Regions from separate parts of the Homo sapiens genome. Here regions 1 and 2 are each linked to region 3. The links come from fine-mapping of genetic effects on gene expression. A gene starts in region 3. Each other region holds a variant in brackets. All regions are shown on one strand. Distances are between the middles of the regions. Region 1 has its middle 24 kb from the start of AXIN2. Region 2 overlaps AXIN2 (axin 2). Region 3 holds the start of AXIN2 (axin 2).

Region 1 (10,318 bases), 24 kb before region 3:
ATTTCACTTCCAACCTTTTATCCCCCTTTCTGGTTTTTTAAGCTCAGAAAGAAACACTGTGGCCGGGCGTGGTGGCTCACGCCTGTAATCCCAGCACTTTGGGAGGCCGAGGTGGGCGGATCACGAGGTCAAGAGATCAAGACCAGCCTGGCCAACATGGTGAAACCCCATCTCTACTAAAAATACAAAAATTAGCCAGGTGTGGTGGTGCACGCCTGTAATCCCAGCTACTCGGGAGGCTGAAGCCCGAGAATCGCTTGAACCCGGGAGGCGGAGGCTGCAGTGAGCTGAGATCGTGCCACTGTACTCCAGCCTGGGCAACTGAGCGAGACTCCATCTCAAAAAAAAAAAAAAAAAAAAGAAAGAAAGAAAGAAAAGAGAAACACTGTGGCCAACTGTGCCTGGATTATCAGAGATCATAGAGAGTGTTCCCTGAAGAAGGGCAGGTAATGTGTAGCGGTGTGTAACATAGACTCTCCTTGATCACAGATAGGCTATGCATTCATTTGATTTGTTCTTGGAAAATTCTGATGATTAGCTGGGCATGGTGGTGTGCACCTGTCATCCCAGCTTACTTGGGAGGTTTGAGGTGGGAGGATTACTTGAGCCCAGGAGTTCAAGGCTGCCAAGAGCCATGATCACACCACTGCACTCCAGCCTGGATGACACAGCGAGCCCCTGCCTCAAAATTAAGAATAAAAATAAATAAAATAAAATTATGGCGAATATTCAATGTAGCCTGATACAGGGAAATGATATGATTTGTTCCACAATCCAATCCAAAAACTTTGAAAATCATCTGCTAATTTAGATTTTTTTTTTTGAGACAAGGTCTTGCTTTGTTGCCAAGGCTGGAGTGCAGTAGTGCAATTTCGGCTCACTGCAACCTCCACCTCCCCGGTTCAAGCGATTCTCCTGCCTCAGCCTCCCAAGTAGCTGGGATCACAGGTGTATGCCACCACACACAGCTAATTTTTGTATTTTTACTAGAGACGGGGTTTCACCATGTTGGCCAGGCTGGTCTCAAACTCCTGACCTCAGGTGATCCACCCGCCTCAGCCTCCCAGTGCTGGTAACTCATGTCTATAATGAGCCGCTATGCCTGGCCACTAATGTAGATATTATACAAGGCAGCCTACATCCTCTTAGAGAAGAGAGAACTTGGTGGTAACTGAAAACATCTGTAGTATGGCCTGTCCTTGCCCCCAGAGAGGCTGCATGGACAGTGCCCTCTGCACTGTCTTCCCCAGAGCTCCTGTCAGCAAAGGGGTGCCTGAAGCCAGGGTCGCCAGTCCTTGGCTCTGGGACAAAACTGGTCCATGTGTGAAACTGGATGCTGGGAACGTATTGCCAACCTTTGATTTTTATGATGTTGTAAACCCAGATGTCTTAGCTCAGACATATGTGTAATGTATTGGAACAAGCCCAGACTTTGAAGTCAGACAGACTTGTGTTCAAGTCCAGACCCTGCCGTTCACTGACCAGCTTAGCTTGGGCAAGTCCCACAGGCTCTCAGATCCTCAGTATTCCCGGTGGTGTGTGGTGGGTCCCGCATGAAAGACACCTACCTGTGCTGGGCCCCTGCTTTGGGTGAAGTTCTGGAAATGCAAAGGTGAATGAATCTTTTCCTTGCCCTTAAAGAGCTCACACTGTAGAGCTGTGGGCACAGGTTCCCGTGCTGTGCAATGGGGTGGGGACTTTGAGGTAGACACTGGGGGTGGCCAGGAGAGCCTGGCCATCCTGGAGCATGGCACAGACTCCCCGTCCCCCTCACTCTCATCCCCACATCTGGGGCACCAGGGTTCCCACAGTGAGGTGGGGCATAAACCCTGCCTGGCAGAGAGGCCGACAGAGGTTATACAGGCGTTCCCTGACAGTTCAGATGTTACAGTCAGAGTCTCGTTGTTTTCTTGCAGTCTTGAGGCTCCAGACAAGTCAGCTTTGTAAATGGGCCTAGGGTACAGATTTGAATGTTTCAGAGGGAGATGCTCTGCTTTTGGGTCTATCAGTGACAGGACCCAGTGGGCTGTCAAGGGGAAGGGGGAAAGGGATGGTGTCCCAGCCATGTCATCCACAGTCCTGGTTTTCCAAGAGAAAGGTGACTTCCGTGCGTCATTATAACAGGGAAGAGGTTAACCTGGAAGCTCAATGGTTCTGGGACACTGTGGAAGGCTGGCCTGGCCCTGGAGGGTGGGGGGCAGGACAGGCAGTTGACATATGGGTGGCTGAGTGTGTCTGGCTGGATCAGGAGTGCGGGCGGCCAGCGAGCTGGCACCGGGCCTGGTTAAAGGCCTATCAGAGTCTCATTGACTGGCTGTCTTTGATCTCTGTTTATTCACAAGTCTGAAGAGGTAACGCCCGTGCTCAGTGATTAATTGCATTTTGGGTGGAGACCACATGCCTTAGTGATAGCTGCAGCCACAGGGACAGACCAAGGTTTCTGTCAGTATCCAGCCTTGAAGGTCAAAGTTCTCCCTATGCACCTTCTCATCACCTGCATGAAGCTTGCAAAGGCAGCCGCCAACCTGTAGGGGACATTCAGTAAATGTCACTTTTCTCCCTGCTGGCCCTTGTCTGACATTACTCAGCATTTCAGAAGTGGCATATACTATGGACTTACAACAAGCCTTGAACATTCTTGGAAAACTTGCCCAAGCTGGAATCCCATTTTTATCTTTATAACCATCTTAGAGATGAGTAGGGCAGGTAGAGTCGTTGTGATTGTGGAGATAAAGAGCACTGAGTAACCGATGGATGGGAACTTGGCCTTCCCCACATTAGTTAACCAGTCAGTGGCAGCCCTTGGATGGGCCCCGATTCTTGCAGCAAAGCCCTATTGTAGCCACTGATGTGGTTCTCGGTTAGCTGGTGAGGTCAGTATGGGGTCATTCCTTGCTTGCCAAATCCCTTGTCCACTCCCAGCTGGAAAAAATTTTTTCGAGTTATAAAGTCCCCATAATCCCGGAAAAGGAGCTGATGCGGCTGTCCTGTTTTGGGCTTTCCTCGACATTCTAGATTTGAACCATACTAAGTACTTCCCAAGCAGGAATTCCTGGCTGGCCCTGGCTAGTCATGAGATGCACTGGAAGTCCCTGGGCAGCCTCACATGGCACCAGATGCCCTCAGTGCTCTGCTCTCCAACCCCCTCTCTCCCCACCCCCACCCCACCCTGGAGACCAGCTTCTTCCTGCTTCACTCGCAGCGTTTCCTGCTGCCTCTCTGGTGGAAGCTTCTAGAATGTGTTTTGCTGGCAACTGGGAGAGCAGCAAGTGTCTGCATACCTTTAATCTCCTCCCAGCCCTTAACTAGTGGTGGACAGATGCTGGGGTATAAATCCTCCAGCTCCCTTGTCCCCAAGCCAGAACAGTGGTGAGCAGTGGGCTACGCTGTCTCCAGATTTCCCCATGGGTGGAACCAAAGTCCCCCCTCTGTGGACACTGCTCGGTGTCACAGCCTTGCTTGGCTTCCTTCCCTTCCATTCCCTCGCTCCCCTGCAGGATTTTCCTTACAGTTTTCCTAGTAATTCACATGCATTCCCCTCACAGAGTCAGTTTCTGGGGAGCCCTATCTAAGACAGTTGCTGAAATAAAATGTGAATATCTAAACAAATATGATCGCTTACATTCGTGTAATGGACTCCCATGGGGTCCCTGCTGCCTGAATCCTACCTCTCATTACATCCAGCCCCAACACGCCCACAACAGGGAGCTTTCTAAAACCCAGCTCAGGTTACGTAGCTCCTCCACTACCCAGTTTAAGACAATTTATCTGCGAAGTCAAGGCCATACTCCTAGCAGAGCCCTGGGTTTCTCCTTGATCTGGCCACAACAACTTCCACTCCAGACAGCCCCCTGTGGGTTACGTACTGTCCGGCTCCACAGGGAGCCATCCCCTCTCCCAAGGCTGCGTCGAGCTTCAGAGCCTGTGCTCATGCTGTTCCATCTTCCAGGTTTGCCCTTCTCAGTTTCCTTGAGCTGATTTTACCCCTTGTCATCTCCTGTAAAGTAGACTCAGTGCCCCCTTTTGCTCCCCTAGCACCCTGGGTACATCTCCACCTTGGTCGTTACCCTGTTTCTATGTTGATCTCTCACACAATGAGAGCTCCTGAAGAGCAAAAGTCCGGGTCTGACCATTGCTGACACTGCCCCCGAGTCTAAGCCAGTGCCCACCTGGCAGGCACCTGACATGTGGGTCAGAACAACCTGGTGATGCTCCCAGAGGAGCTCCATGAAACATGGTGCTATGGACCCAATCTGTCTCCCCAAAATTCCCATGTTGATGCCCTGACCCCCAATATTCAGAGATGGGGCCTTTGGGAGGTGATTAGGTTCAGATGAGGTCATGAGGATGGGGCCCTCATGGTGGGATTAGTGCCCCTATAAGAGGAGACACAAAGGCCAGGCACAGTGGCTCACGTCTGTAATCCCAGCACTTAGGGAGGCTGAGGCAGGCTGATCACCTGAGGTCAGGAGTTTGACACCAGCCTGGCCAACATGGTGAAACCCCATCTCTACTAAAAATACAATACAAAAATTAGCCGGGCGTGGTGGCGTGTGCCTGTAATCTCAGCTACTGGGGAGGCTGAGGCAGGGCAATCGCTGGAACCCAGGAGGCAGAGGCTACAGTGAGCTGAGATCGTGCCACTGCACTCCAGCCTGGGCAATAAGAGTGAGACTGCATCTAAAAAAAAAAAAAAAAAAAGAGATGCCAGAGAGCTTGCTCTCTCTCTGTCTCTCAGCCATAGCAGGACATAGCCAGAAGGCAGCCCTCTGCAAGCCAGAAAGAGAGCCCTCACCAGGAACCAAAGACGTCAGCATCTTCATCTTGGACTTCCAGCCTCCAGAACTGTGAGAAGTAAATATCTGTGATTTAACCACCCAGTGTATGGTGTTTTGCTATGGCAGCCCAAGCTGACTAATGCACATGGGTACAGTAAACCCAAATGTACATTTCTGGGCAAATACCAAAGATCCTGTTCTAGAATTCAGTGTCAAGACCTACCAAATATTTTTTAGGGTTGGTTTTTCTTAATTATGGGAGAAAGAATTGAGGCATTTCTGTCCATTAATTTTACCTGTATGTAATGACAATTACATCCATTGTTTTAGGCTATCTTGATCCAGGGTGGTCTAAAAATCACTGGGCTAAGCTGCTGACCCCTCAGCCTGACCTCCTGAGTCTCCAGAGAAAAGCTCTGGAATCCGGCTTTGTGTAGACCTCCCCCAGGACTCTGATGCAGAGAACAGGTGCAGCCCATGGTGCTGTCTAGCACCCCTGGACCTAAAAGCTCTAAGGCCAGGTCTGAAACTGAACTCATGAATGCTCTCACTCCAAGATCCCACTTGATCTGTTTGATCTATTTGATCCAGTGTGATCTGTTTGATATTTAAGTTTTATGAATTGTTTGCAAGTGACATACAATGTCAACAGTGAGTCAGGCACCCCCAAAGCCAAATAGGGTGGATTCATCAGAGATAAAAGCAACCAGCGAGACTGGCCTGCAAGAGTCATCCCGGCCACTCTCAAGGCATGTGAACGTTAGCCTCACCTTCCAAGGCCCAAAGTCCCTGCTCTTCCTGAGGTTCTCTTGGATCGGCCAGAGGGGCCCGTGTATGCGCTCTGCATTCTGCCTCGGGTTGGGGGGTTGGCTAAGAAGGGATCTCCTAGCTTCTGGGCCCTGAGCAGCAATCAGAGCCTCCTGGGGCCTGCGGGACTTCCTGGTGGCGCCACCAGCCCTTTTAGTGCCAGCACGTTGGCCTTGGCTTTGCTGGCTCTTCCAGCAGCCAGCACTGTCCCTGCCAGGAACTGTGATCCCACAGCCAAGGCTTTGTAGCCTCTTCATGGAGAGAGAGGCTGTGCAGCTTCCTCTTCAGCTGGGCCAGGGTCCCTTGGGGTTCCCTTTCTTCCAAGGCCACATCCCTTAAGAAACAAAGCAAGTCCTTCTCAGGTGCTCGTGATCCTTGCAGGGGGTGCCTCAAGGACCTTCCAGGCAGGTGGAGAGAGGCAGTGACCTAGTCTTGCAGGAAGTGTCCTCAGTCTTCATGCAGAAAGCCTTGGGGACCTGGGCAAGAGAAGAGTTAAGTTCTGGGCTGAGGCTTCAGTGTTCAATTTCTTTATTTCCTGTTGATGACATTATTGCCTTCCTACAACCATTGACACATGTTGCTTTCATCTGTT[T/C]CATTTCAAGACATGAGTACACTCGCTGGAAACTATGCTTAATAGCTAAACTCAAAACATTTGGATTTCCTTTCCTTCTGTGACTCTTTGCTGGTATGCTGCATTCTCTAGTTTTTTTGGGTGGTGGTGGCATGTGTGTTTTTTTCAGCCACCATTTCTAAGCAGCAAAAAGAGAAGTCACTGGCTCTCTGGCCACCTGCCTCAGGCCCATCTGCTGCATATGGGATATTTCCCTTCGCTGGAGGAGGCCTATGTTTGCCCCATGTTGTGGTGGTTGGAGAGCATCTCTTCGTCCTCTTCTTTTACCCAGCTCCTTCCCCTGCCTGTCAGGGAGAGGACCAGCCTTGTCAGGGAGAGGACCATACCTACAGGATGGGCAGATGGCTTCTTCCAGTTGCTGTGTGCCCTGGAGCCTGCACCTACCCTTCCCACCTTCCCCAGCAGTGCAGGGCTGCATGACTCATGGCTTGGACCTTCTGAACAGAGCCTCCGGAATAGAGAGGTGAGCTTGTCAGTCTGGACCCGAGGACTCAGGGGAACAAATAGGACTTGCTGCCTGGGCTGCCTGTGGAGGGGATCTGGGCAAAGCTCCCCTTGGCCAGACCTTGGATGGAAAGCGGCCATTGGAAGCAGGCCAGCCTCATCTGGTTGGAATAGGGTTTGACACGTGTTTCCAAGCCTGGTCGCAGAGCTGCAGCTGCCACTAGCCCTTCCCTGGGCCCGGACTGCGCTGCCCGTTGACAGTCTGCAAAGCAAGCAGTCAGTCTGCTATGGAAGGGTTTGCAAGGTGGATGCCCCCCTAGCCTGGGGTGACTGCCCAGCCCCCACCAGCCTCCTGGGAGGGACATATTCCCAGGAGGAAGCCAGAGGGGAGCGGGAGGGGAAGGCAGCCACAGTCTGACTCCCTAAGATGAAGAAAGTCACTTGCGGTATGCATGGACCTTTATGTCCATTTCTCCTTTTATCCTTCCCGTAACAGAACGGCTTATTCCCATTTTGCAACTGGGAAAAGTGAAGCCCAGGAAGGGTGAGAAATTTGCTCAAGCTAGGCCAGGTGTGGTAGCTCACACCTGTAATCCCAGCTGAGGATTACAGCTGGGAGGCTGAGGCAAGAGGATCACCTGAGGTCAGGAGTTCGAAACCATCCTGGCCAACCTGGTGAAACCCCATCTCTACTAAAAACACACAAAAATTAGCAAGTTGTGGTGTCAGACACCTGTAATCCCAGCTACTCAGGAGGCTGAGACAGGAGAATCATTTGAACCCGGGAGGCAGAGGTTGCAGTGAGCCAAGATCATGCCATTGCACTCCAGCCTGGGTGATAGAGCGAGACTCCGTCTCAAAAAAAAAAAAAAAAAAAAATCAGAAAAAAGAAATTTGCTCAAGCTCACAGAGTTGGGTTTGTTTTGTTTGAGACAGGGTCTCATACTGTCGCTCAGGCTGGAGTACAGTGGCGCTATCACAACTCACTACAGCCTTGACTTCCCAGGCTCAAGCGATCCTCCAGCCTCAGCCTCTCAAGTAGCTGGGACCACAGGTGCAAGCTTTCATGCCTGGCTAATTTTTAATTTTTTTTGTAGAGATGGGGCTATGTTGCCCAGGCTGGTCTCGAACTCTTGGGCTCAAGCAATCCTCCTGCCTCGGCCTCCCAAAGTGCTGGGATTACAGGTGAGCCACTGCCTTACACAGCTTTTAAATGCTGAAGTTGGGATATGGGCCCAGACTTGAGGTCACCAAAGCCAGTTTTCTTTGGGATGCATCAAACCTGTCTGCCTGGAGGGAGATGGTGGTGGGTGCACTAGGCTTGGTGGGTGCGCTAAGCTAGACTTTAAGAAGATGGCCGGGCTCGGTGGCTCACGCCTGTAATCCCAGCACTTTGGGAGGCTGAAGCAGGTGGATCACGAGGTCAGGAGTTCGAGACCAGCCTGGCCTACATAGTGAAACCCCATCTCTACTCAAAAATACAAAAAATTAGCCAGGTGTGGTGGCAGGCACCTGTAATCCCAGCTACTCGGGAGGCTGAAGCAGGAGAATCGCTTGAACCCAGGAGGTGGAGGTTGCAGTGAGCTGAGATTGCACCATTGCACTCTAGCCCAGGCGGCAGAGCGAGACTCCATCTCAAAAAAAAAACCAGAAGAGTCCATACTCCTCCCATTTTTCTCCTCGGTCCCTCTCTCCCACTTCATCCTGGGCCTCTTCTGTTCAGCAATCCACATTTCAGGCAAATAGGAAGAAAGTCCGCTAATAGACAGGTAAGCGTGGTTGTGTGCATTTTATCCAGGAGGAAGAACATTTGAGGCCATTCTGCTGTGCCTTTCAAGTCCGCAGATCTGGCCAAGAGCCTGAGATAGCAGGAAGTGTGAAGAACAGAAACTTCAAGGGAAGAAGTGTGTGAGGGGATGGAAATGCTAGAGGCTTATAGGGCCAGGAAAGTTATCACTCCTATCTGTCTGTACTCACTCACAAAAGTCCCCTCGCTCAGGAAATGGACTCCCGGTTCTATCAAACTCATTATATATTTTCTTCCACTTTCTTGTCCGGTATTTCCAGGCTGCTGGTGTCCTGGTTTGGGTGTGTCTGAGCATCTGTGTGTGTGTGAGCATATGCATGTGTGTGTGCACACGTGTGTGAGTGTCTGCGTGTGAGAGAGAGAAAGAGAGAGAGAGGCTGGGCGCAGTGGCTCACAGTTGTAATCCCAGCACTTTGGGAGGCCGAGGTGAGCAGATCACTTGAGGCCTGCAGTTCAAGACCAGCCTGGCCAAGATGGTGAAAACCCGTCTCTACTAAAAATATGAAAATTAGCTGGATGTGGTGGCGGGCGCCTGTAATCCCAGCTACTCTGGAGGCTGAGGCAAGAGAATTGCTTGAACCCGGAAGGCAGAGGTTGCTGTAAGCCAACATCGTGCCACTGCACTCCAGCCTGGGCGACAGAGTGAAACAACATCAAAAAAAAAAAAAAAAAGAGAGAGAGAGACAGAGAGAGAGCTGAGAGTGTGTGAGGCAGTACAGAATGGGGATCCACCAAACGTTGTCTGAGGATGTGATCAGCACAAGATAGGCAATGCCAAGGTGCCTGTCAAAGGTGACGAGGCCCAGTTTCCCTGGCAGTTTGTTTCCAACAGGCCTGGCTGAGACTGTCTAATGGCAAAGCCCCAGATGGACATCCAGGGGTGCACAATGTCCCAACAGCCTAGAACTCTAGCTCTTCTATAGCCCTGGTTGAAAGACACAAGACCAGGCGAATTTATAGTATGTGACTGGGTATAAGAAGGCATTCCAAAATGGCAGGGTCACCTGACATGCTGTGGATTTCCCTTTTTGGTGGTTCTCTATTTTATTAAAAGTTATATAGGCTGTATGCGGTGGCTCACACCTGTAATCCCAATACTTTGGGAGGGTGAAGAGGGAGGATTGCTTGAGCCCAGGAGTTCAGGATCAGCATGGGCACTGTGGCCAGACTCCATCTCTACAAAAAAATTAAAAAAAAAAAAAAAAATTAGCCAGGGCCAGGCGTGGTGGCTCACACCTGTAATCCCAGCACTTTGGGAGGCCGAGGTGGGTGGATCACCTGAAGTCAAGAGTTCGAGACCAGCCTGGCCAATATGGCGAAACCCCGTCTCTACTAAAAATACAATTAGCCAGGCATGGTGGCAGATGCCTGTAATCCCAGCTGTTCGGGAGGATGAGGCTGGAGTATCCCTTGAACCCAGGAGGCGGAGGTTACAGTGAGCCGAGATCACCCCATTGCACTCCAGCCTGGGCGACAAGAGTGAAATTGTCTCAAAAAAAAATAAAAATAAAAATAAACAAATAAATAAATAAATTAGCCAGGTGTGGTGACACACACTGTAGTCTTAGCTACTCCAAAGGCTGAGGCAGGAGGATCACTTGAGGCCTGGAGTTCAAAGTCACAGTTAGCTGTGATAGCACCGGTGCACTCCAATCTGGGCCACAGAGTGAGAACCTGTCTCAAAAGCAATAATAATAATAATAGTATAGAGCCATAGAAATTTTGGAAGGTGTAAGATAACATTTTTCAGTTGCAAGGACCAGAGACCCTCTCAGTTGACCTGAAGGGAAAATGTGGGTGTGTTGCAAGAATAACGTTGCTTGTGGGGGAATTGGCCAAGGTGGCTGCTGT
Region 2 (10,318 bases), 32 kb after region 3:
TAGGTTGAGGAGCCTGCTCGTTTAATTACTGGATGGTGCAATTAAAAAGAAATCTGCTAAAGAGATCTAAAATGGTCTGTATCAAGTTTTCTTTCTTAGTGTCTTCATCCTGAGCAATGAGCAATGTTTGAAGTCCTCAATAGGCCACTGCCCTGGACCCTTTCATTGTTTCAATTGGTTGACCCTAAGTGTACCAGCTCTCTGGGTCTGGGCCAGCCACTTTTTTTTTTCTTTTTGAGACAGAGTCTCGCCCTGTTGCCCAGGCTGGAGTGCAGTGGCTTAATCTTGGCCCACTGCAGCCTCCGCCTCCTGGGTTCAGGCAGTTCTCCTGCCTCAGCCTCCCGAGTAGCTGGGATTGCAGGCGCCCACCACCACACCCAGCTCCTTTTTTGTATTGTTAGTAGAGACAGGGTTTCGCCATGTTGGCCAAGCTGGTCTCAAACTCCTGACCTCAAGTGATCCGCCCACCTCGGCCTCCCAAAGTGCTGGGATTACAGGCGTGAGCCACCACGCCCGGCCTAGCAGCCTTTTTTTCAAGCCATTCTACAAAATCTCAGAAGAAATGGGGAAATGGACATGACTGTGTGATAACCCCCATTAGTTGTTCTCATTCTGCTGGAATAAGGGGTGGGCTTTAGGCATTCTGAGATCATGCCATCCCAAAGGTGTCCTGCTCTGGGTTTGTCTCTTTAGCACTCTCCAATCCAGGTGAGACCCGGCATCTCTGTGATAATTTCTCTTCTCTCATCTTCTTGAGGAAGCACCCCATTTATGCCAGCCTGAAAGAGGCCGCCGTATACTTTCATTTGGTGGCGGTGGGGGAAATGATACCAATTTGTACAACCAAAAGGAAATCATCCTTTTCTGCATGCTGCATGCAGCACATGTGGGGTTGGACTGTGTGTCCCCCAGAGCTGCCTGACTCTGGGATGTGGGGCTCTGCCCCAGCCCCCACTTTGGGTTTACAATTGCAGCCCTAGTGTTTGGATACCCTGTCACTTATGCACATGTGCGCACGTGTGTGTTTGCTTTAGATGTGTGTCTGCTTTAAAATGCTAAACTTGTTCCATTCCATCTTATTTTCAGTCACAAAGAGCCAAAGAAACTGGCAGGTGTCCACGCGCTCCAGGCCAGTGAGTTGGTTGTCACTTACTTTTTCTGTGGGGAAGAAATTCCATACCGGAGGATGCTGAAGGCTCAGAGCTTGACCCTGGGCCACTTTAAAGAGCAGCTCAGCAAAAAGGGAAATTATAGGTAAGAGTCCTGTGGCTTTTTTCTGCTCTCAGTTTGTTTGCTCAGAACCAAGAGCCAGAGCCTGGAGCAGCTCCCCTGGCTGAGCAGACCTAGGTGGGGCAGGGTGGGAGGGGGCTCAGCAGGCGCTGGGGGAGGCTCCCTTCTCATTTCTTCTCTCCCCTCACCGCTAGCAGCAATAACGAAGCAGCAGCCGCAAGAGGGAGGCTGCGTGGAGGGTTCTCTGGGGGACCTGGCCAGGCTCTTTCCACCAGGTGAACCAGACTGAGGAGAGAAAAGGAGCAGCTGCTTGCACCGACAGGAGAGTGGGGCTCAGGCCACACTGCAGAGGCTTTACCTGCAATTGAGGGGCTTGTGGGCGAGTGGGGAGCAGGGAGCAAAAAGAGGGACAGGCACACTGATTAGGAGGGAGGGTCTGGAAGCGCCGCCCTACTGGCTTGAGTTTAGGAGAGACCCCCACATTGAAGGCTCCAAATAGTCAGGAACCATGCCTAGGAAAAGTCCCCCGTGTTTTTCTTACCCTGCCTTTCCACCTGAACAGCCTCCCTGGATTTTATGGGCCATTAGAAGCAGAGATGCGCCTTTGTCCATAACAAAGAAGGGGCTGGACCTGCGGGTGGGCACAGGGTGAATAGGGCAGTCTACTCCTCCTGTCCAGGCCTGGGCCCCGCTGCCTTCTCCCCTGCAGGGGCTTCAGGAAGGGAACTTCCTGGTCTCCTTACCTTGTCTGCAGAGTGGACGGAGGTGCCCTTGAGAAGGTCCATGCTGACTTTTTAGGGCCCTTGAGAGGGTTCAAGAGCTGAGGAGGATGAGGGCCAGCCCTAGGCCATTCCTTCTCTTGATCATTTCCCTCGTAAGGAGCAGGTGATGACTCTGCCTCAGTTCATCTGGAGTCCTCCCTTGCCCCTCTCCATGGCCTGCAGCCCAAGAGAATGTGTGGATTCTGCTCCAGTTCTGTCCCAGGTTTCCCAGGTTTAGGGCTCCAGGCTGGGACAAGGGTGAGACAGGGGCACCCTAGTTTAAGGAGGTGCTCACTCTGGGGTCTACACCCAAGACAGAGTTCCAACTCCTCAGCTGTGTGCTGTTGTCCCTGTGCCAGGACCACAGTCTATTCCCAGGTGTGAACCCGTTGCCGCCACCAGGGCCAGGGGTGTGAGTGGAAAACTCTGAATAGCACTTGGTAACCTGCCAGGTGGGCATGGGCTCCTGGACGGGGATGAGTCCACCTGCAGGGCTCTGAGACACCCTCCCCTCTAGAGCAGGCCTTGTATAGTTTTACCAGCCACCTTCATCTGGGAGTTAGTTTGGGCGGGGGCTCAAAGTGATTCTCTTTGGAGTGGGGAGGGGATGGAGGTTGGACTGAGCCCCTGGAGGTAACTGGCCAGCAGGGCGTGTTGCTGGGTCTGGATAGTCCCTTTTATACCTGGGCAGAGACAATTGTGAAAAGGTATCAAAGGGGTGGGGGAACAGGCCTGGCTGCTGCTGCTGCTGCTTTTATCTTGAAAAGACACAAGGTGAAACTAATGACACAAGTGTGTCCCTCTGGGGATTCATTTTGATCTTGGCTTTGTCTCGGCTGGACTTCGAGTGGAACTGCAGGTGACCTTGGAGAAGAGCCATGTGGCGCTGGCATAGGCTTGTGGGGAAAGTGCCTCCTTCAGCTGCTGTGGCCACATCTGGCTCTGATTTTTTTTTTTTCTCCCTGAGGCACAGTTAATAAGCCTGGCTTTGAAGCCCTGGCCTCCCCTTTAATGCACAAAGACTTGCACAAATGGTCAACTCTCCGATCCTCTCCAGTTCTTTCCTGAGTGGATCAGGCTGTGGGAAGGCCCTCCCAGCTGCCTTATCTCTGCAGGGCCTGAGCTAGACTCAGTGTCCTCCTGGGGTAGGACAGGGACACAGGGTGTCACGCCTCACCCTCCCAGCAGGGCTGGTGCTTCAACATCTCAATTTGTACAAATACATCCCCCCTTCAAAAAAATAAAAAAGACCCAGTGAGGTTGGGGCCGTGGAGCAGGGGTGGGAGGTGGGGGGGACCTGGGATGCGTTGAGTAATCTCAACATGGCAGGGGTTCAAAAAGCAAACAGTCCCTTCAGACGCGCCAGACGCTGTTGGTGCCAGATGTCAGAAGAAAGCAAAGTTTGCCACATGAAGCATGTTGCAGTGGAAAAGCCTGTTTCTTGGAGAAAATGAGGGCAGTGCAGTGTGTTTGAAGTCCTGGGGGTGGGGCTGAGAGAATGTGGCCTCTCTCCTCTCTGGAGGAGGTTGCAATTATGTAAAAGGTCGCTGCGTGTTTGCTCAGACATGCTGTGAAAGCCCAACTTGGTAAACCCTGGAGGGGTCGGAGCTGGGGCCAAAGGGGTCTGACGGAGGGTGGCGTTGGGATTTGAGCCTCTTATGTGGAGAAGTGACTTTTCCCCCCACTGTCCTGAGTCTCCTGTGCACAGAGCCCCTCCCCATTTTCTCACTGTCTCCTCTCACGCTCCCCCGAGAATTTTGACCCCTTGACATGACGTGTCTTCAGTGCTGCCTAGTCAGAGCCATGCCGTTGTTCACCCCACTGCATTAGCTGGGTCAGGAATGCTAAAAACAAAGAACCTTGACTAAACCCAGCTGTTCACTGTATTTAGCCTTATCTCCTACGAAAGTATTTGGCTTGCCTTTATTAAAGAGGGAAAAAATTGAGCTCTAACCAAGGGGAGTTAATTTTTTTTTTTTTAAAGGGAAAAGACAAAGCCCAACCATAACCCTGAGACACAATTAAATGCTTGAAAGGTTCTCCCATCCCCCCAGGGGACTGTGACCTTCCCT[C/T]TGTGAGTGGCCTTTATGGGCTGGAAATGACAGCTTGCAGGGGCAAGTTTAATCCCTCTGAGGGGTCTCCCTTGGCTGGGGACAGGGAAGGAAGAGGCCCTTGCTTAATTTCCTCGGAAGGGGTTTAGGGGTGGGCCTGGCCCAAGAGGACAGCAGTTGTTTCCGAATGTGGCACTCCTGAGAGGCCAGGCATTTGCATCTGTACAATTAAACAGCCTCAGAAGAAAGAACGCTGGGGAGGGATGAAAGGAGCCTTTAATCAACGGGCATAATAGAAGGGCCTTTGGTGTTTGACCCTGGAGGGATGGGATGGGAGAAGAGGCCTGGAAATGGGGAGAAGAGGGGAGGGCATCATGGGGCCAGTGCCGTCTGTTCGGCCCTGGGAAGCTGCGCTGGGCTGGCTTGCCTCCTGTGTGGCTGTGCCAGGGCCATCCAGGAGTGTTGCACTTGGGACCTGGAGGATGGGAAGGCCGAGAGGCCTTTGGACTGCTAAACCATCTGGAAGTCAGCCTTTTACAGACTTCGGCAGGTTCCGGCTCTCCAGGTGTGATGGGTTCAGGATGGCTGAACCTGGAGATAGTCTGGAGTCTCTTTGAAGGACCTGCTTGGCTCCTGCTGCAAAGGAACTGCAGGCATTTGTCCTTCCCTTCCCTCCCCCACCCCACTGCTGAAAAAGGTTGGCGGGGGGAAAGCAGCTCTGCTTTTCACAGTGTATACGTGTCAGGAGACAGCAGAGGTGCTGGGTTGAAGATTGCAGGTGGCAGGCCCAGCCCAGGCTGCTGCTCAGTGGGTGCCTGGCCTTCATCATCTCGGCCCACCTGCTTCTTGTGGTGTGGCCAGTCCCAGCTGCCGTCTTAAAGCAGATGTGCGCAACAGTGTACAGGCACACCTGCCATAGCAAATTCCTAGGATACCTCAGTCCTCCATGTTGGTATGCTTTTCTTTTCAACAATGTGGAAAATGCAGTTTACCAAGAAGCTTTTTTGGTTTTCCTTTTAAGGTATTACTTCAAAAAAGCAAGCGATGAGTTTGCCTGTGGAGCGGTGTTTGAGGAGATCTGGGAGGATGAGACGGTGCTCCCGATGTATGAAGGCCGGATTCTGGGCAAAGTGGAGCGGATCGATTGAGCCCTGGGGTCTGGCTTTGGTGAACTGTTGGAGCCCGAAGCTCTTGTGAACTGTCTTGGCTGTGAGCAACTGCGACAAAACATTTTGAAGGAAAATTAAACCAATGAAGAAGACAAAGTCTAAGGAAGAATCGGCCAGTGGGCCTTCGGGAGGGCGGGGGGAGGTTGATTTTCATGATTCATGAGCTGGGTACTGACTGAGATAAGAAAAGCCTGAACTATTTATTAAAAACATGACCACTCTTGGCTATTGAAGATGCTGCCTGTATTTGAGAGACTGCCATACATAATATATGACTTCCTAGGGATCTGAAATCCATAAACTAAGAGAAACTGTGTATAGCTTACCTGAACAGGAATCCTTACTGATATTTATAGAACAGTTGATTTCCCCCATCCCCAGTTTATGGATATGCTGCTTTAAACTTGGAAGGGGGAGACAGGAAGTTTTAATTGTTCTGACTAAACTTAGGAGTTGAGCTAGGAGTGCGTTCATGGTTTCTTCACTAACAGAGGAATTATGCTTTGCACTACGTCCCTCCAAGTGAAGACAGACTGTTTTAGACAGACTTTTTAAAATGGTGCCCTACCATTGACACATGCAGAAATTGGTGCGTTTTGTTTTTTTTTTTCCTATGCTGCTCTGTTTTGTCTTAAAGGTCTTGAGGGTTGACCATGTTGCGTCATCATCAACATTTTGGGGGTTGTGTTGGATGGGATGATCTGTTGCAGAGGGAGAGGCAGGGAACCCTGCTCCTTCGGGCCCCAGGTTGATCCTGTGACTGAGGCTCCCCCTCATGTAGCCTCCCCAGGCCCAGGGCCCTGAGGCCTGCTAGAATCACTGCCGCTGTGCTTTCGTGGAAATGACAGTTCCTTGTTTTTTTTGTTTCTGTTTTTGTTTTACATTAGTCATTGGACCACAGCCATTCAGGAACTACCCCCTGCCCCACAAAGAAATGAACAGTTGTAGGGAGACCCAGCAGCACCTTTCCTCCACACACCTTCATTTTGATGTTCGGGTTTTTGTGTTAAGTTAATCTGTACATTCTGTTTGCCATTGTTACTTGTACTATACATCTGTATATAGTGTACGGCAAAAGAGTATTAATCCACTATCTCTAGTGCTTGACTTTAAATCAGTACAGTACCTGTACCTGCACGGTCACCCGCTCCGTGTGTCGCCCTATATTGAGGGCTCAAGCTTTCCCTTGTTTTTTGAAAGGGGTTTATGTATAAATATATTTTATGCCTTTTTATTACAAGTCTTGTACTCAATGACTTTTGTCATGACATTTTGTTCTACTTATACTGTAAATTATGCATTATAAAGAGTTCATTTAAGGAAAATTACTTGGTACAATAATTATTGTAATTAAGAGATGTAGCCTTTATTAAAATTTTATATTTTTCAAAACACTGGCCTCGTCTTTGAATCCCCAGGGTGGGAACAGGGCCGAGGGGCCCTTTTGTGTGTAGACATCTGTGCTTGATTTCCTACCTTGCCCAAGCCCGTCTCTGACCTTGAGCCCTGACCTGATCTGGACCCACCTGGAGGTTTTGTAAAGCCATTTATTCAAATCACCTGGCTACTGGCTGAGGCTTTTCTTGCCTTGGAGCAGGCTGTAGATGACATCTCCTTTGGGGGTCCTCTTCCCTGTAACACCTCCATTCAGCCTCTTCCTCCTGGGCAGATTGTCTCCAGTCCGGCCAGGTAGGTGCAGGGGACCAGGGGATGAGAGGAGGCCCTCCCAGGAGTTTCAACAGGTGTCTCCGACATGAAAGCCGTTCAGCAGATGGTTTCATAGACCTGGAATGTCCACGTGGGGCCAATGGACTTAGAGATCAAAGCTAGCCAGGCACCCTCCCCATTCTGGGAGCTGATCAACAAGGCTGACTATTAATCCTATCAGTATTTTATCGTGAGCCATCAGGCTCAGGGCCGGTCAGGTGTCGGGAACATAGCAAGGAGGTGGTTCAGGAGGAGGCGACACAGGCAGCTTCTGCACCGCTCGGTGGACAGGTGTGCTTATGTGGCCAAGGACCTCGGCAGGCAGTTGCCCGCTCAACAAACGTGCCCTCCCTGTATCCTGAGCACTTGGCCTGCATGCCAGGCCATACTTTAGATCTGGGAAAGCAGGTCTTTTTAGTGGAGTCCTAGGAAGAACCCTTTTTAAAAACAGAGGATCTGTAACTGCAGTTGGACTTGACTTCTTGTGTGCTGAGTTTTCATGAAATGAACTCGGTGGTCTGCAGTGGATCTGCTTGGCTTGTTCTTCCTGCTGCCAACTGGCGTCAGGCCGGCAGCATAGAGAAAGGCCAGGGTTCTGGCCATGCGGGGTAGGGATGGACTCGAACCCAGTAGCCTCGGAGTGGTGGCAGTAGTAGGAGTTGTCAAGGCTGCTGGGAGAGTCCTGAGTTACCCTCTGAGAAGGCGAGGATGTGAGGGCATCTGGCAAGAGGCTGGAGGAGCTCTGATGCCTTGAACTTGTCCCTAACCATGCAGGTGCTGTGCCCTCCCCTCCTGGCTGGAATGGGGGTTCATACCAGGGTGTCCAACACTTTCCGAATTGTAAACTTCTTTCCAAGACAAAAGGATGAAGAGATGCAACCTATTGTGTGTGGTGAAGATTGGGGTTTGTGGATGGCTTTTCATCTCTATCTTCAGGCCTCTTGATTGAGGAGAGTGATGAGGTTGGGGCTTGGGCCTCAGACAAACTGGACTGAAGGCCCAGCACCACCACCCTCTGGGTGCCATGAGCGGGTTTCTGGCATCTTCTAAGGTGCATTTGTGAGAGAGAACTGGACTAGTTGATCACTCATGTTTCTATCTCCTGTTTTCATTCTTTTTTTTTTTTTTTTTTTTTTTGAGACAAAGTCTCACTCTGTCATCCAGACTGGAGTGCAATGGCGCAATCTCGGCTCACTGCAACCTCCACCTCCTGGATTCAAGCGATTCTCAGGCCTCGGCCTCCTGATTAGCTGGGATTACAGGCGCCCACCACTACGGCTGGCTAATCTTTGTATTTTTTTAGTAGAGATGGGGTTTTGCTATGTTGCCCAGGCTGGTCTCAAACTCCTGAGACCTCCCAAAAGTGCTAGGATTACAGACATGAGCCACTGCACCTGGCCCCTGTTTTCATCTTTAAACTTTTTTTTTTTTTTTTTTTTTGGAGGCAAGAGTCTTGCTCTGTTGCCCAGGCTGGAATGCAGTGGCACAATCTCAGCTCGCTGCAACCTCCGCTTCCTGGGTTCAAGCGATTCCCGTGCCTCAATCTCCCAAGTAGCTGGGATTACAGGCATGTGCCACCACATCGGCTAATTTTTGTATTTTTAGTAAAGACTGGGTTTCGCCATGTTGGCCAGGCTGGTCTTGAACTCCTGGCCTCAAGTGAATCTTGCCCTCCTCGGCCTCCCAAAGTGCTGGGATTACAGGAGTGAGCCATCGCACCCGGCCCCTCTTAAACTTTTAAGTATACAATACAGTATTGTTAACCATAGGGACAGTGTTGCACAGAAGATTTCTGGAACTTATTTATCTTGCATAATTGAGACTTTACGCACATTGACCAGCAACTCATTACCCCCTCACTCCAGCCCCTGACAACCACCATTTGGCTCTCTAATTCTGCAAAGTTGACTTAGATACCTATATAACTGGAATCCTGCAGTATTTGTCAATCCGTGCCTGGCTTATTTCATTTAGCACAATGTGCTGTAGGTTCATCCGTGTTGTCACAAATGACAGGATTTTACTCTTTTTTTTAAGGCTGAATAGTATTCCATTGTGTATTTATATTACATTTTCTTTATCCACGAATCCATCGATGGACACTTAGGTCATTTCCACATCTTGGCTATTGTGAATAATGCTGCAATAAAAAAGGAAGTGCCAATATCTCTTCAAGACCTTGATCATCTCTATTTTTTTTTTTTTTTGAGATGGAGTCTCACTCTGTCGCCTAGGCTGGAGTGCAATGGACTGCAACCTCCACCTCCTGGGGTCAAGTGATTCTCCTGCCTTAGCCTCCCGAGTAGCTGGGATTACAGGCGCCCGCCACCATGCCCATCTAATTTTTTGTATTTTTAGTAGAGATGGGGTTTTGCCATGTTGGCCAGGCTGTTCTTGAACTCCTGGCCTCAAGTATTTCACCTGCCTTGGCCTCCCAAAGTGCTGGGATTACAGGCGTGAGCCACCACACCTGGCAAGAACTTGATTTCAATGATTTTTGATAAATACCCAGAAGTGGAATTGCTGAATCATATGGCGGCTCTATTTTAAATGTTTTGAGCAATCTCCGAAGTGTTTTCCACAGTGGTTGCACCACTTTGCATTCCCACCAACAGTATACAAGAGTTCCAATCTCTCCACATCCTCATCAACACTCGTTTTTTTGTGATAATAGCCATCCTAATAGGTATGAGATGATACCTCATCATGATTTTGATTTGCATTTCCCTGATGGTTAGTGACACTGAGCATCTTTTCAAATACATGTTGGCCATTTGTGTGTCTTTGGAGAAATGTCTTTTTTTTTTTTTTTTTTTTTTTTTTTTGAGATGGAGTCTTGCTCAGACACCCAGGCTGGAGTCCACTGGTGTGATCTTGGCTCACTGCAACCACTGTCTCCCAGGTTCAAGCGATTCTCCTGTCTCAGCCTCCTGAGTAGCTGGGATTACAGGCATCTGCCATCATGCCCGGCTAATTTTTGTATTTTAGTAGAGACGGGGTTTCACCATGTTGGCCAGGCTGGTCTTGAACTCCTGACCTCAGGTGATTCCCCCACCTCGGCCTCTCAATCCTGTGCTAGGATTACAGGCATGAGCCACCGCCCCCGGCCGAGAAATGTCTATTAAAGTCTTTAACCCGTTTAAAGATTGGGTTATCCTAGCACTTTGGGGGCCAAAGTTGGGGGATCGCTTGAGCCCAGGAGCTCAAGACCAGACTGGGCAACACAGTGAGACTCCATCTCCAATTAAAAAAAAAAAGATTGGGCTATTAGATTTCTTGTTATTGAATTGTAGGAGCTCTTATATATTTTGGAACTGTATATTTCTGCCTGTTCTAAGAGGGGCCCATTTTTGTGCTTCTCTGTCATATTAACACTTAGGGCCTCCTAATCCCATGTGGA
Region 3 (10,222 bases):
AGTTTTAAATTACTGTTTAACTGTGTTTTAAATTTCATATTAAAAAAAGATATTTTATCAACAAATAAATTCCCCCAACACTTCTGAAGATGGGATTTCTTTTCTTTTCTTTTGAGGCAGAGTCTCACTCTGTCGCCCAGGCTGGAGTGCAGTGGCACGATCTCGGCTCACTGCAACCTCTGCCTCCTGGGTTCAAATGATTCTCCTGCCTCAGCCTCCCGAGTAGCTGGGATTACAGGTGTCTGCCACCACACCAGGCTAATTTTTGTATTTTCAGTAGAGATGGGGTTTTGCCATGTTGGCCAGGCTGGTCTTGAACTCCTGACATCAGCTGATCCACCTACTTGGGCTCCCAAAGCGCTGGGATTACAGGTGTGAGTCACTGCACCTGGCCTTGAAGATGGGATTTCTTAGGGAAACCTTACTTTTCCCCTTGTGGCTTCAAAATCTCCACCTTGGCATTCCCAGTCCCTCCTCTGCAAAGGGGAGAGGAAGTAGGTCCATTCCTCCTTAGGTGGATCAACTCCACGGAGATGCCCATGTAAATGGCTGCCACTCTAAAAGACGTGGGTCAAACTGTCCCAGATCAGGCTGTGGGTAGCCCAGCTGGCAGAGCCAAGGCAACCTACCTACAGGTAGGGGCTGGATGAAGCGTGCCTTAGAGGGATTTCAGACAGAAGCCCTGTTGTGATTCTTTCAGGAAAGTATCCCAGATTGTATGTATTAGTCCTGTTGTAAAAGTCAAGACCTCCAGATGGTCTCACCCCCTCCATCTCAGCCAGCCCCTCCCTGGGTCTCCTCACTATGGTGTGGAGGAAAAAGAGGCTGGGCCAGGAGTCAGGACCCCTCAGAAGTTCCAGCTCATCTCTGATATGGGCAAAGTGATCCTGGGGAAATCTCACTTTCTCTTTGCTTAATTTGTCTGATTTCTTTCTTTCTTTCTTTCTTTTTTGGAGACAGAGTTTCGCTCTTGTTGCCCAGGCTGGAGTGCAATGGCGCAGTCTCCGCTCAATGCAACCTCTGCCTCTCGGGTTCAGGCGATTCTCCTGCCTCAGCCTCCCGAGTAGCTGGGATTACAGGCATGCATCACCATGCTCAGCTAATTTTTGTAATTTTAGTAGAGACAGGGTTTCACCATGTTGGACAGGCTGGTCTCGAACTCCTAACCTCAGGTGATCTGCCCACCTCAGCCTCCCAAAGTGCTGGCATTACAGGTGTGAGCCACCACACCCAGCCAATTTGTCTGGTTTCTTAAATGAAGGGTTGGACTAGATAACTCTTGAATGGCCCCTGGGCTTATTTCTTTCTGCATAGGACTATCCTTGAAAGATGGTAGCAGGGCACAGCCTCCTTTATCTCCTTTAGGCCCCCTATGGTCAGCCTCCTGGGGTCATTCTTCCCCAGATCGTCACTCCCAATGGACGGTATCTTTGCTTTGGAGATAGGGAGTTTCTTCCCAGAATAGGTAACAGGCTATTGAGGGAACAGACTTACTCTGTGAAAATAACCGCCATGTTCTATTGTGTGTCCAGCTCTGTGCCAGGCATTTATCGTATTGCTCAGGCTCACAACAGCCTTTGCAGGGGAGGTTTCCTCCAGTCTACAGGTGAACAAATGGAAACTCCGTGTGGTTAGGTAACCTCCAGTCTTAGGAAAGGTTACCTGTGTCTCTCTTCACCTTCCTCCCCAAACAAAGGTACATTGTCTAAGGCAGCACTTTTCCAAAGGAATAAAAGACAAAGTTACTGAATCTGAGAGAGCAGTGTCCTGGGTCTCAGCTCCTCTGAAGTCCCAGCTGGTGTGACTTCCCCTCCACAGTGGTTTTTGTGGGGCTGACTAAAGGTCAGAGATCTGGCCAGATGCCTCCCAGGGAGCCCTTAGTCCTTGTTTTCTGGGATTCTAGGATTTCAGCCCAGTATATAATTCCAGCAAAGAATCACTCTCTGCTTTATTAAACTTGTCTGCACTTAGGCAAAGTGGACTGTTTATCCTCCGTAGGGTTTTTCTTTAAAGGTGGAGCGGGGGGGCGAGTGAGCATGTGCAGAAATCCATCACCTTGCTTTCCAGTTTCCAGGCAACCGTGCAGGATTACAACAAGTCACATGATAGCGCTGCTGCCAGGGACAAGGGGAAAATGGAAAACGTGCTATCTTGAGAAACGGGCTGCTATAAGCACAGGACTTTGGATTCTCCTCTAGAAATATTATCAACAAGTAGTCAGAGACCCAGAGGCTAGAGAGAGGGCTTTCCAGTACTTGGCCCAGCCTCCTGCTGGGAGGGAAGTGTCCCACCAGATATAAAGCTGTAGGAAAGGGGACAGGCCAGGGGTGATGGTGGAGGGAGTCACTGCCCTAAAGTGACCCGAGCACCTGTTCTGGAAACCATGCTCTCAGAGGAGTTATTTTTTATTTATTTATTTTTTGAGACGGAGTTTGCTCTTGTTGCCCAGGCTGGAGTGCAATGGCACGATCTCGGCTCACCACAACCTCCGTCTCCTGGGTTCAAGCGATTCTCCTGCCTCCGCCTCTCAAGTAGCTGGGATTACAGGTATGCGCCACCATGCCTGACTAATTTTGTATTTTTAGTAGAGAAGGAGTTTCTCCATGTCGGTCAGGCTGGTCTCGAACTCCTAACCTCAGGTGATCCACCTGCCTTGGCCTCCCAAAGTGCTGGGATTACAGGCATGAGCCACTGCACCCCGGCCCTCAGAGCAGTTATTATTGACCGAGAAGATCCAAACCAAACCGGGCCTTGCTCCTGGGTCCCCAGTCCCAGTCCCAGTCCCCTCTTGCTACAGTCGCAGCCATGGGATAATGAGGTAGTCCTTTGGTTAAAGTTGAGCCTACAGTGATTAGGGCTGGTTGGGGGAGGCAGTGACGGGTCGGTGGGGACAACTGGGAGGAGAGGAAAACCACCCACAAAGACCAAGTTTCCACTTCCTTTTTGAAAACCTCTTTTTTCTGAACATTGTTTATTTTGATTTTAGATGTTTTGATTTTTCTCTCTCCCCCACCCCCCACATTGTGTGTGTGTGTGTGTGTGTGTGTGTGTGTGTGTGTGTGTGTGTGACTTTACTGTTGTTTATATGGTAGACACTTTTATGGCAATCCATACCCCTCTGTCTACATTTCTGTTCCAGTAATAACACCCTCTGTGGCCCAAAGACTCCCTGGAACCACAGTGACAGTTTTACTCTTGGCACTCCTGGGGTGGCCAAAGGTGGTGGCTGTGTTCTTGGCCCTGGGCCAGCTCAGAGCTGGTGGCTAAGAGGGTCCATGGGCCACTGACCCCCCAGAATACCAGCAGGCCGGGGCTTTTAGAGCCCACTGGTTTCCTCACACCAGCAGTTGTCCTAAGGCAAAGATGAGTCATCGGGCCACACTCTTTCCCTGGCCTTCCTGGCTGGCTTCAGGGCCACATTTCAGGGCTGGTACTGCTGTCTTTATGCCAACCTGGCTGCCTGGGGTCGAGAGCCTGGAGCTGCAGACCATGGGCACCGAAAGGCAGGTTTTGGGGAGGAGCGGCCACCTGTCATGGCACCCACGAGCCAGAGTCCAGAGTCTTAGACTAGAAAGTCTAAGAGCTTTCTAGTCCCTTGTCACAGTCCCTTAGGCTGAGGGCAGGTGGCGCACAGTCCTGCCACCTGCCCCTTTCCAGCAGATCATGGGTGGTGGATCTTCCTCCTCTTTTTTTCTTTTCTTTTTTTTTTTTGAGATGGAGTCTTGCTCTGTCGCCCAGGCTCACTGCAACCTTAACCTCCTGTGTTTAAATGATTCTCCTGCCTCAGCCTCCCGAGTAGCTGGGACTACAGGCGCCCCCCACCACGCCTGGCTAATATTTGTAGTTTTAGTAGGGACAGGGTTTCACTATGTTGGCCAGGCTGGTCTCGAATGCCTGACCTCAGGTGATCCGCCTGCCTTGGCCTCCCGAAGTGCTGGGATTACACGGGTGAGCCACCACACCCAGCCTCTTCCTTCTCTTTTTCTATGGATACCTAGATAGAGCCACAATTCTTGCATGTTTTAAAGTTCTGAAGGCCTAATGACAGGCCATCTCGCATTTAAAAGGGCTCGTCATCCATTAAGTTGGAGAGTAAGAGCCTTGCACAGCTCTGAGGCCAGGACTCTGCCTTTCACTTCTTGGATCTCTTTGGTTCACACCTTTATGTGTGTGTGTGTGTGTGTTTTTTTTTTTTTTTTTTGAGGGAGTCTCGCTTTGTCACCCAGCCTGGCGTGCAGTGGTGCCATCTTGGCTCACTGCAACCCCCCCACCCCCGTCTCCTAGGTTCAAGCGATTCTCCTGCCTCAGCCTCCCGAGTAGCTGGGACTACAGGCACGTGCCACCACACCCGGCTGATTTTTGTATTTTTAGTAGAGACGGGGTTTCGCCATATTAGGCAGGCTGGTCTCGAACTCCTGACCTCAGATGATCCTCCAGCATGGGCCTCCCAAAATGCTGGGATTACAGGCATGAGCCACCGTCCCCGGCCCTTTGTTTTTTAAAAGGAAGAAAAGTTAATTATTCGCTCATAACATAAGGAATCATTCTATAGCAGCAGCAGAATAAATACACAATGCTCTGGGTTTGTGACATATTTTCTCATTTTAACGGAGAAGAGAAGGTTGTGTGTGCCTTATAAACGTTTTTGGGCAAATGTGGGAGAAATTCAAAGGTGACAATGGGGTGAGGAGTTTTCGATACATTAAAACGGCATGCATGCCTTGTCGTTTGGAGTGGGAAAAAAGATATTCCTATCGGTTTAATATGTAACATATGGCAGAAGAGGGGACTTTGGAAGAGTAACGGGTATGCAGTTGTTTGGGAGAGATGGCCAATGTGTGCCGCTACGAGGGTCTTATGGCCAGCAGGTTAGGAAGCTGGACCTAGGTCTTCAGGGCACTGAGGTATGCCTCCTAACTGGTGTTAGCACTCAGGCCTATACTGGCGGATTCACACCCCACTTTCACACATGCACAAACGCAATTCATCCACCAACTGCAGTCCTATATTTACCCGAACTCAGATGCACGTGCACAAGCGCGCACAGGCATGCACACGCCTCCAGCGGCTGGGCCCGAGTCCGCCCTATGACAGCGGGCCAGCCAACCCCAGGGCCGGAACTCCCTTTATAAAGTCCTCCAAGCCCAAATTCCCAGGGAAACTTGAATAGAGGTAGAAAAGCGTTTGATGATAGAAAAAAAAAAATCTGCTTGCTTGCAGTTCTTGCGATGGCCATAATGCTACCAGAAACTGTTGCATTCCAGAGCCGGGGAGAGCGAGGGCAGGCAGGGGGAGGAGGCGGGAGCAAAGAGGCCGGAGAACTTAAAAGAAGAAATCAGAACTCGGGCTGAGAATGCCCTCGGGGCCGCGGGGGGCTGGCAGGGGGCGGAGGAGAGGCCGGGGAAGGGTTAACGCGGGAGCGGAGCGTGCGGCGGGGGCGGGCCGGGGCGGGGCGGGGCGGGCGCGGGGCGCTGTCCCTTTAAGGCGGGCGGCGCGGGCCGGCCGAGCGCGGCTGTGATTGGCGCGGCGGGATCACTGGCTCCGCGAGCCTGGCCCGGGGGAGTCGGCTGGAGCCGGCTGCGCTTTGATAAGGTCCTGGCAACTCAGTAACAGCCCGAGAGCCGGGAAATAAAAATAACCCCTCAGAGCGATGGATTTCGGGGCCGCCCGGCGGCCGAGGCGCCCGCCGAAGGCCCTGCTGTAAAAGGTGGGGGTGGAAGCTCGGCCCCAGCGGAGCCGCTTCAAAGAAAGCCCCCCTCTTACAGGGGGCGAGGTCGCGCCGAGCCGCGGCGTGGGCGCGGGGGGCGGGAGGGGGCCCGGCCAGGCGGAGGCCGGGCCTGGAGGGGGGCGCGGGCGGGGCGGCCCTGCGGAGCGGTGGCGGGGCTGCGGGGGGCGGCCCGGGGCGCGGCCGGCGCGTACCTCCCTTTCAGGACCGTGCGCTCGGCTCGCGCCTTTGAAGTGCACAGTTAAATCCACAGCGCAGTTTTTGTTGGAAGCGCCCGGAGGACATTTGGTGCGCCGAGTGACTGCTGGAAACAGGACCTGCGTTGAAAGCCGGGCCGGGCGGGGGCGGAGGCCCGCTCGGATCTTTTGCATAAAAGGGGCGGCGGGGCGCGCCGTTCCCCCTCCCCGGCCGGTGGCTTTCGCTCTGAACCCGGGATTGTTGTTTCCCGCACCCCCTCCCCCGCCGCACGACTCCCCATGTTCCCCGACGCCGCGGCCGGCCCGGGGGGGCCCGGGGCTGCCGCCGCGAGCCGAGCCGGGGGCCGGGGCCGGGCCCCTGCCAGGGGCGCCTGCGAGGTCTCGCCGCCGAGCGCGCGCGGGGATCAATGGTGAGTGCCGAGGCCGAGGCGGCCGGGCGGACCGCGCGCTTTGATGTGCGGGGCGGCCCTTTGAAGTTGGCAGGCCGGCTATTTCGGGGCGCGCTAGGGGCCGGCGCGGAGGGGAGCGGCGGACCCGGCGCCCAGCGTTCCGGGGGGCTTGGCCGGGCAGCCTTGCGCGCCCTGCGCCGGAGCCCCCTCCCCAGCGCGGTGACCGGGTTGGCGGGGGGCCCAGAGAGGAGACTTATCCGAGTGGCGGCAGTGGCGGGGGCGGAGAGGGGGCAGATACCCCCCGGGGGTCGCGTCGCTGTCGCGGTTATGGATGTGAGTCGGCGTGTGAGTGCGCGCGGGAGTGCCTTTGGGAGGTGGGATGAAAGGGTAGCGGCGCCCCCCGCTTGCCCTCCCCCGCCCCCCGCCTCTCCTCCGCCCCATCCTCTCCTCCTACTTCTCTTCCCCCTCCCCTTTTCCCCTCCCTGCCGCGGGTCCGCGCTAAGGGGCCCACAGCGCTGGCGGAGGCTCAGTCTGCGCGCAGGACCGGCCCAAGTCCGGGGCGCCCGTGTCCCTCGCGTCCCTCCTCCCGGCCCGGGCCCCTCGCCCGTGGCCGCCCCGGCCCCTTTTGCGGAGAGGCAGAGACTCCGCGCGTCGCCATTTCTGGACTAGGCTGCTGCTTTCTGTGCTTTTTCTGCGGGCGCCTCTGCAAACGGCGGCGCCGGGGACCGACCCCCCGCCCGGGCTCGGGGCGCTGCTGGCGTGTCCCGGGGTTCCGGCCTCGAGGTGTGCCCGCCAGGGCTCTGGAGGCGTTCAGTTGCATTTGGGCCGGGGGACCGGGCCGGAGGGGCTCGGAGGACATGAGAGCCTGGCTTCGGCGGCCTTCGTCTTCCAGGTAACGGGGCCGCTCCACCTCCCACCGCCCGGGTAGCGCGGTGCCAACGGCAGCCCCACTTCTCCGTGGGCCGCGCCGCCCAGCCCCGCGGCTCGAGGCTCTGGTCGGGTTCAGCGTGCACCCATCCCAGATCCGGGGTCCCTGGCTTCTCGCCCGGGGTTGCACCCCGTTCAGCCCCTACCCTTCTTAGTTTGATCTTTTCCGTGCTAGGGAAAGCAGCTTGTTTATTGGTTAGATAAGACTTTTTTCTTTGGAAAAAAGACAGGCTTGAAATCAGTAGAGTTTGGGATTCTTGGCACAGGCAGTAGTGGCGTGAGACGGCTGGTGATCCAGTTTTGTAGGTTTCGCGGATCCGGGAGGTGGGTTGGGGGCACGGGGGCGACGGTTCCGAGGCTTCTCAGCTCTCTCTCAAAGTTTGAAGATGAAAGTCTCCCCTGAGTGAGTTGGTTTCTGGTTTGGGGGGAGGTCAGGGAAGACAGAGGTGTTGACTGAGCTGGATTCTTGGTGGGGGTAGGGGGCGCGTAGCGAACACTCAAATCTGAGTTGGGGAGGGGGTGTTTGCGTGCTGAATCTGGGAGTCCGGGAGCCCAATCCGCCTATGCTGGGCGGGCTTCTCTTGGGCCAGGATCTTCTGAATTTTTAAGGAGTGGGAAGAGGGAGCGCAGAGGGAGGGGGTGGGTGGGGAGAATGGGAACCAGATGCCGGGGAAGGGCACGTTTGGAGCTCGAGTTATCTGTGCAGGGCCGAGTGGGGAAATATACCGAAATTGGTTTCACCTGCACACAGCCTAGCGGCTGGGAGTGCGCCTTTTTGGAGTTGATGGTATCGGGGGAGGGGAAGGGAGGGAAGGCGAGGCGCGGGCTGAGCTGCCCTGCGTGCGCCCTGGCCGAGTGGGTTTTTGGAAGGTTGTGTCTTACACCTCCAGTGTCCCCCTGCCGTCCCCAGCTCTTGCCTTCCTCTCACCTTCCCCGCCTCTTTCCCAACAGCTCCCTCCCACCCCCAACCCCGAAAAGTGTGCAGGGAGCTCAGATTTCGCTTTTGAAAAGCAGCGCCTGATACTTTAGATGAGCACCTCGCAGATAGCTGGGTTGCTTGATTTGAATTTGAGGAGTTGAAAAGCCTGTTTACTTTCTTGCTTTGATGTTGGGTAGATCTGGTTTTGATTAGATCAATACCCTTTTCTCTCTCCCCACCTCCCCCCTTCCTTTTCTTTCCAGAGAGGAGGTTCAGATGAGCCCCTGCTGACTTGAGAGAGACAGAGAGACCACGCCGATTGCTGAGAGGAACTGGAAGAAGAAAAATTCCCAGACTCAGTGGGAAGAGCTCCCTCACCATGAGTAGCGCTATGTTGGTGACTTGCCTCCCGGACCCCAGCAGCAGCTTCCGTGAGGATGCCCCGCGGCCCCCAGTGCCAGGGGAAGAAGGGGAGACCCCACCGTGTCAGCCAGGGGTGGGCAAGGGCCAGGTCACCAAACCCATGCCTGTCTCTTCCAACACCAGGCGGAACGAAGATGGGTTGGGGGAGCCGGAGGGGCGGGCATCTCCGGATTCCCCTCTGACCCGGTGGACCAAGTCCTTACACTCCTTATTGGGCGATCAAGACGGTGCTTACCTGTTCCGAACTTTCCTGGAGAGGGAGAAATGCGTGGATACCTTAGACTTCTGGTTTGCCTGCAATGGATTCAGGCAGATGAACCTGAAGGATACCAAAACTTTACGAGTAGCCAAAGCGATCTACAAAAGGTACATTGAGAACAACAGCATTGTCTCCAAGCAGCTGAAGCCTGCCACCAAGACCTACATAAGAGATGGCATCAAGAAGCAGCAGATTGATTCCATCATGTTTGACCAGGCGCAGACCGAGATCCAGTCGGTGATGGAGGAAAATGCCTACCAGATGTTTTTGACTTCTGATATATACCTCGAATATGTGAGGAGTGGGGGAGAAAACACAGCTTACATGAGTAATGGGGGACTCGGGAGCCTAAAGGTCGTGTGTGGCTATCTCCCCACCTTGAATGAAGAAGAGGAGTGGACTTGTGCCGACTTCAAGTGCAAACTTTCGCCAACCGTGGTTGGCTTGTCCAGCAAAACTCTGAGGGCCACGGCGAGTGTGAGGTCCACGGAAACTGTTGACAGTGGATACAGGTAAGACTTTGACGGGGGCGGGTGGGCTGATGCTGTGGACTTTGCAGATGTTTTAAGTATGGTGGATGGGTGGATGGGTGTGCTGCAGAGACTGACAGGTCTGTTGAGTTAGGACTGCTGGCCATGAACCCTTTTTGATCTTGCTTTTTGTTGTTGAAACAGGGGGAAAGCGATGCACATACAGTAAATACCTGCAGTCTTCCAGTGCTGACTTCAAACAGTGGCAAGCAGTATTCACTAATGTGGGTTACTTATTATCCCGGGCTAGTGTCTCAGAAGAGGTTGAGAGAGAGAGAGAGGACAGCAGCTTTTGATGCCTCTGAGTCACCAGATCCACTAAGCGCCGGTTTTGGAAGGGGTCACTTCACCACTAATCAGTAGAGGGTGGAATTAATGTGGCTAGGGAGGCAGCTGGGTTGTGGTGGAGGCACAGGAAATAATATGTGCACCCATTGAGGGGTAAGTGGGATTTTTTTTTGAACTTTTCTGTTAAGATAAGAGCCAGCAATTGGCTTAACTGAGCTTGTGGTTCCCTTTGTAGAATTAGATATTTACCCAGCAAGAAAGGCCTCTAACTAGGGAAGGTCCTGTGACTTTCCCAAATGAAGGACCCTTACCTTTAGAGCTTGCTGGCATATTAATCCAGGTTTTAAATGCTCATGAGTCCGAGGGTCAGACTTCAGTTGATTATTTTGTTAGTGCTGATGGAGAAGAGATCTTGGCCCGGGAGTACTGGGGCCCTGGAGTACTTTCTCTTTGAGGCTTCAAAGACAAATAGTTCTTTGCAGAATGGCCAAGTCTTAAGATTCTTGACCTTTGGAGGCAACTTCAGACCTCTTGTTAGAATGAGTTTTTCTGTTTTCTCCCCTCC

Evidence for each region.
Region 1: its variant is fine-mapped to the expression of AXIN2 in whole blood (TOPMed, PIP 0.93).
Region 2: its variant is fine-mapped to the expression of AXIN2 in whole blood (INTERVAL, PIP above 0.99).

The regions. Positions count from the first base shown.
Region 1 is chr17:65,580,573-65,590,890 of GRCh38, reverse strand. No RefSeq gene overlaps it. Among named protein-coding and RNA genes, the nearest start is that of AXIN2, 24 kb to the right of the region's middle. RefSeq lists an enhancer at 6,857-7,391. The variant T/C (reference allele first, on the strand shown) is at 6,178.
Region 2 is chr17:65,524,848-65,535,165 of GRCh38, reverse strand. It overlaps AXIN2 (axin 2), which reads left to right. Exons shown (of 11, transcript NM_004655.4): 10 at 1,087-1,254; 11 at 5,064-6,603. The coding sequence ends at 5,190. Among named protein-coding and RNA genes, the nearest start is that of AXIN2, 32 kb to the left of the region's middle. RefSeq lists enhancers at 3,084-3,596, 4,111-4,623, 4,624-5,138, 6,961-7,255. The variant C/T (reference allele first, on the strand shown) is at 4,064.
Region 3 is chr17:65,556,935-65,567,156 of GRCh38, reverse strand. AXIN2 (axin 2) reads left to right here and starts at 5,509. Exons shown (of 11, transcript NM_004655.4): 1 at 5,509-5,707; 2 at 8,421-9,351. The coding sequence starts at 8,537. RefSeq lists a silencer at 5,346-5,495.